Regions from separate parts of the Homo sapiens genome. Here region 1 is linked to region 2. Evidence: fine-mapped expression QTL. A gene starts in region 2. The other region holds a variant in brackets. All regions are shown on one strand. Distances are between the middles of the regions. Region 1 overlaps MOB1B (MOB kinase activator 1B). Region 2 holds the start of MOB1B (MOB kinase activator 1B).

The links. PIP is the estimated chance that this variant, and not a neighbour inherited with it, causes the effect.
Region 1: its variant is fine-mapped to the expression of MOB1B in blood mononuclear cells (TOPMed, PIP above 0.99). The same link has a PIP of 0.9 or more in non-classical monocytes and whole blood.

What each region holds. Positions count from the first base shown.
Region 1 is chr4:70,950,314-70,953,225 of GRCh38, reverse strand. All of the region lies in intron 1 of MOB1B (MOB kinase activator 1B), which reads right to left. Among named protein-coding and RNA genes, the nearest start is that of DCK, 42 kb to the left of the region's middle. The variant A/G (reference allele first, on the strand shown) is at 1,233.
Region 2 is chr4:70,900,574-70,903,485 of GRCh38, reverse strand. It overlaps MOB1B (MOB kinase activator 1B), which reads right to left and starts at 1,117. Exons shown (of 6, transcript NM_173468.4): 1 at 936-1,117. The coding sequence starts at 949. LOC124900711 (a long non-coding RNA gene) reads left to right here and starts at 1,255. Exons shown (of 2, transcript XR_007058132.1): 1 at 1,255-1,537. RefSeq lists silencers at 788-837, 1,148-1,297.

The DNA.
Region 1 (2,912 bases), 50 kb before region 2:
GGCTCATGCCTGTAATCCCAGCACTTTGGGAGGATGAGGCGGGCAGATCACTTAAGGTCAGGAGTTCAAGAACAGCCTGGCCAACATGGTGAAACCCTATCTCTGCTAAAAACACAAAAATTAGCCGGACATGGTGGCAGACGCCTGTAATCCCAGCTACTCGGCTGAGGCAGGAGAATCGCTTGATCCCAGGAGGCGGAGGTTGCAGTGAGCCAAAATTGCACCACTTCACTCCAGGCTGGGCGACAGGGCGAGACTCCAACTCAAAAAAAAAAAAAAAAAAAAAAAAAGACCAAATGACAAAATGACAGAGTCTTCAAATTCAAAAGCATAAATACCCAAGCATGTACACAGAAGTCCTCATCAGTGAGTACAAGCTCTTGTAGCAACACTGTATGCCCAAATGCATACATCTCACATATTTTAAGACATACAAATACAAATCTTCACAAAAATTTTCAAAAACATAAAGTATGCTGCCCTCTTACCCCACCTACCTCAGAAGAAATTACAGTTTCTAGTATCTGGTATAAGCATTAGAAAGTTTTTTTTTTGTTTTTGTTTTGTTTTTTTTTTTTTTTTTGAGACGGCGTCTCGCTCTGTCGCCCAGGCTGGAGCGCAGTGGCACAATCTTGGCTCACTGCAAGCTCCGCCTCCTGGGTTCACACCATTCTCCTGCCTCAGCCTCCCAAGTAGCTGGGTCTACAGGCACCCGCCACCACGGTCACCTAATTTTTTGTATTTTTGGTAGAGACGGGGTTTCACCATTTTAGCCAGGATGGTCTCGATCTCCTGACCTCGTGATCCGCCCACCTCGGCCTCCCAAAGTGCTGGGATTACAGGCATTAGAAAGTTTTGTGCCTGTTTTTATTTGCTTTTACACAGTAGCATAGTGTACTTAATAATGTTTTTCACTTAACATATCCAGAAGACTGTTATATTTAAGATACAAGTAAATCTACTTTATTCTTTCTAAAGACTGAAATAGTATTTCCTTATATATATTATATTATAATATAGTTTGATCAGTCCTTTATTTAAAACATTTAGATTGTTTCCTCCAGTCATCTGCTACCACAAACAACACTGCAGTAAGCATCCTTGTGTGTACGCATGTATGAAGGTTAAATTCCTAGAACTGTTGTTTTAAAGAGCAGTTACATTTTTAAATTTTATATAGTGCCTATTTTTTCCCCAAATAAATTGTACCCTTTTACAATCCCATTAACAAC[A/G]TATGGGAGCAGCCACAACGTACGAAAGTCTTAAAGGACAGGTATTAGATTGCTAATTTCTCTTGTACAGCTTCCAACACAGCATCATAACTATGGAGAATGTTGTGCTTTGTTTTTTTGTTTGTTTGAGACAAGGTCTTGCTCTATTGCCCAGGCAGGAATGCAGGGGCATGATCAATGGCTCAAGTGATCCTCCCACCTCAGCCTCCTGAGTAGCTGTGACTACGCCACCACACCCAGCTAATTTTTTGTATTTTTATTAGAGATGAGGTCTCACTTTGTTGTCCAAGCTGGTCTCGAACTGCTAGGCTCAAGCAATCCCCTCATCTTGGCCTCCCAAAGTGCTGGGAATACAGGCTTGAGCCACCATGCTCAGCCACTATGGAATGCTGACTAGAATGTGAATGATGTATTACATATTAGAGGTATCACATTAATAATTCATTGCATTACTCTACTGCTTTCCAAATAAACATCCACGATATTCACATTTGTTTTCCCATTCTTACTCATATTTGAAGGCAAATCAATTTTTAGAGCAGGACAGGGTGATTTGTCTAGTAAACAACTCAGTCCTAGAGATAGCTCTGAATACATATCTCTTAGTCTTCCAATTTGATTTATCTTTTGCAAATTTCAGTATCATTTATTTTCTCTTTGAGACTCTAAAACAGTGGCTCCCAACCTTTTTGGCACTAGGGACCAGTTTCACGGAAGACAACTTTTCCACAGGGGTTGGCGGGGTGCAGAGCTCAGGTGGAAATGCTTGCTTGCTGGCTGCTCACCTCCTGCTGTGAGGCCCAGTTCCTAACAGTTTTTGTTTTTGTTGTATTACCCCTATTTTTTTTCTGTACCAGATACCTATATATTGACACTGAAGAATATGTAAATTTATTCAAAATTAAAAGCAAATTATTTGTCACACAAATGATTGTAAAATAAATGATTTGTGTTACAAATCATGTATTTGTGCCAACAGCTCCATCTCTTCAAGGTTAAGTGAGTTATTAGTCTAACCACAGCTAGCTAAATGACAGAACCAGGGTCTCGAAGAAGTTACTGTTACTGAGTCTCAGCTTCCTCGTCTACAAAATGGAGATAATAATACCTACCTTACTACTGAAACTTATGTTAAGAACTTCACTACTATTAGTTCTCTCTGCTCCGCCTCTAGGTACTAACCTTTCATTCACATCAGTAGCTCCTTCCATAGGTCTAAGTCCAACACTACAGATCAGGTATTCGATAAATACTTGTTAACTGAAAGTTCCAGTCAACTTCAGGCTGAGAACTCCTACATCAGGATAATAATGATGATTAATATTAACTAACATTTACCGCAAGCTTTGTACTCGCAACTATTTTACATGCAATATATCTCATTTAATCCTAGTAACTCTGATATACAAGCTATTATTTTTCTTTATTTTATGGATGACAAATCTAAGGATTTAAAGTACTTACATACTCTGCTCAAGATTATAAAAGTGGTAAATTAAGGAGCCAAAATTTAAATCCAGGATTTAAATCTCTAAAGACCATTCTTTTTTTTTTTTTTTTTTTTTTGATACAGAGACTTGCTCTGTCACCCAGGCTAGAGGGCTGTGACCCGATCTTGGCTCATCCGCCTCCTGGGTTCAAGCGATTCTCCTGCCTCAGCCTCCTGAGTAGCTGGGACTA
Region 2 (2,912 bases):
GCTGTAACCCCTGTTTTCAGAGGACCTGAGGCTTATCTACTGCCTCCATATCCACATCTGGCCATCCCATCCTTCTGCCCTTCCCCCTCCACGTTCCCCTCCACTCGTCTGGAACAAACGATAAGTAAGTGAAATAATGACCAGCACTAAACATGACGCCAAAGTTGGCATTTACAAATGATTTTCAAAACAACTCCCCAGTGGACCTAATCAACCTAGGCAGGGCACACTATCCAAAACCTATTTGCTGGTTGTCTAAAAAGATAAAACTCATCCTCTTCAGGGAAGTCCTCTGGGAGGAAGGGCGCCTCTAGGAAGCAAGGGGGCGGCTCCAGACCCCTTTCTCAGGGACCCCCGTCTGTGTCCAAGGGATCCCGACCCGCAAGTAGCCTTGTTTCAGTGTTACATCTACAGAACTTGTCATCCCAACTTCCCAGCCCTAAGACGAGAGAGGAAGTTAAAAGGGTCCTGGGATGACAGGGGAAAGTACGACAGTCTTATCTTCTGTGCTTGGGACCCAGAAAAGAGCAATGGGCAGCCGCGACGGAGCCATTCAACCGAGCACCGCTTGGATACGGATTGTGCAGGCGAGTGGGAGATACCCACGAGAAGCGCACAAACAAGCCCGGGAATGCGAGCGAAGGCAGAGACGGGGGTGATGAAGGAATCCAGGCGCTGGCCCCGGGGTGTGCCGGGGGGGAAGAACCTCCTCAGGGCTGCAGGAGCCCACGAGTACTCGAAGCCCTATGGGGAGGCGGCGGTTAGGTAGTCCGAGCGCTCCGCGCAGTCCCGGGGCCCCGCTTGGTGGTGACGCCGGGCCCCGGGAGCGCTGGGCCAGGAGGGTCGGGACGAGGGCGGGCGACGGGCGGCGGGCGGCGGGCGGGGGCCCAGGTCCACCCGAACAAAGCCGGCGCGTGCGGGGCCTGGCTACTCACAACAAGAAGCTCATGTTGGCCGCGGGGCAGGCTGCAGGCTCGGCGGTCGCGAGGCCTCGGAGCGGCGTGGGCCAGGAAAGAAGAGGAAAGGCGAATGGAACAGGAGACAGGGAGGCGGAGGAGGAGGTGCCGAGAGCCGGCTGCTCGGTGGCCGCAACTAGTTCGGCTCAGCTAGTTCCAATGGCAGGGGGAGGGGGCGGAAGTGGGTAGCGCTCGTCTTGAATCACTCCAGGGGAGGGGAAGGAAAGGGAGGCGGGGCAGGCTCTCCGCGAGCCCCTCCCCAGCTCCCCGCCGCCCCCACCTCACGAGCTCTCGCGATAGCGGTGCAAGCCCACCCCGGCCCTCCGGCTGCGGCATGGGGACTCTCACCTTCTGGTCTCCTCTGCTGCTAGGGACGACGCCCAGCGTGTGCGCCGCGGCTGCCCGGCCCCCCTGTCCACCCGGTTAGGAGTCATGGCAGAGCTCTCGGAGCCGCTCAGCTGGGCTCCAGAGGTCAGGGAGGAAGTGGGCTTCAGCTCGGGGATGTCAAGGTCCCGCAGTGAGGGATGGAATTACCACCGGAGTTAGGCCCACCGTGAGTGTCCGGCCAAGGGCGGTGAAAGGTAATGGCATCTCTCAGTTCACCACGGAACCCAGCATGATAGGGTGGTCATCGGTGTAACCACTTAGGGGGCCAAAGCTTGTAAGCATTCTAATGCACAGAACATCCTAGAAGCTAGAAGCTATTCAGACCCACTTACAAAGGGACTTTTATTCTCACAGGGTTATGGGGCCCAGGGCAAGCCTTTATATTCTGTTTAAGAATCCTTCACATACCTTGAATATGTCACCACAGCATTACCAATTTAGGAGGGAAATACGGGTATCGAAGAGATGTCCGTCTTCTTTACTCACAACACCCATCAAATCTACAAGTTTTCAAAGAGAATCTGAGCAAAACAAATCATGTGCAGATATTAGCTCACCTTTGGCTTATCCCAAAGGGCAGAATACACTTTGAAGTAGGTGCAGATATGAAATGTATTATACTGCATATATGCACTATTATTTGGCACGTTGGTAAAGTGGTAAAAAAAAAAAAAAAAAAAAAAAAAAAAAAAAAAAAAAACGTTTTAGGCCGGGCGCAGTGGCTCATGCCTGTAATCCCAGCACTCTGGGAGGCCGAGGTGGGTGGATCACCTGAGGTCAGGAGTTCAAGACCAGCCAAAGTTCAAGACCATGGCCAAACCCCGTCTCTACTAAAAATACAAAAATTAGCCGGGCATGGTGGCACACACTTGTAATCCCAGCTACTCGGGAGGCTGAGGCAGGAGAATTGCTCCAACCCAGGAAGCAGAGGTTGCAGTGAGCCAAGATCATGCCACTACACTCCAGCCTGGGTGACAGAGTTAGACTCCGTCTCAAAAAAAAAATTTTTTAATAGAAGAAAATACTAGAATCTTGCACTATCTCAGGAACAGCAGAGGTTACTGGAATGAGAAAACTTACAGACTCAAAAGATTACCAGATCAGGATAAATAGCTAATGCATGCAGAGCTTAATACCTAGGTGATAAGTTGATAGGTTCAGCACACCACCATGGCACACACGTTTACCTATGTAACAAACCTGCACGTCCTGCACATGTATCCTGGAACTTCAAATTAAATTAAAAATTTTTTAAAAGATTCCCCAAAAAGAAGAAAGAGGAGGATTTATCTGAATGAAAATAATAGATTTATGGTATAAAACCCTGTGCTCCAAATATTGATATGGTACTGACTTACTGTATAATTCTTTTTTTTTTTTTTTTTTTTGAGACGGAGTCTCACTCTGTCACCCAGGCTGGAGTCCAGTGGTGCAACTTCTGGACTAGGCTCACTGCAACTTCTGCCTCCTGGGTTCAAACAATTCTGCCTCAGCCTCCTAAGTAGCTGGGATTACAGGCCTGTGCCACCACACCTGGCTAATTTTTGAATTTTTAGTAGAGACGGGGTT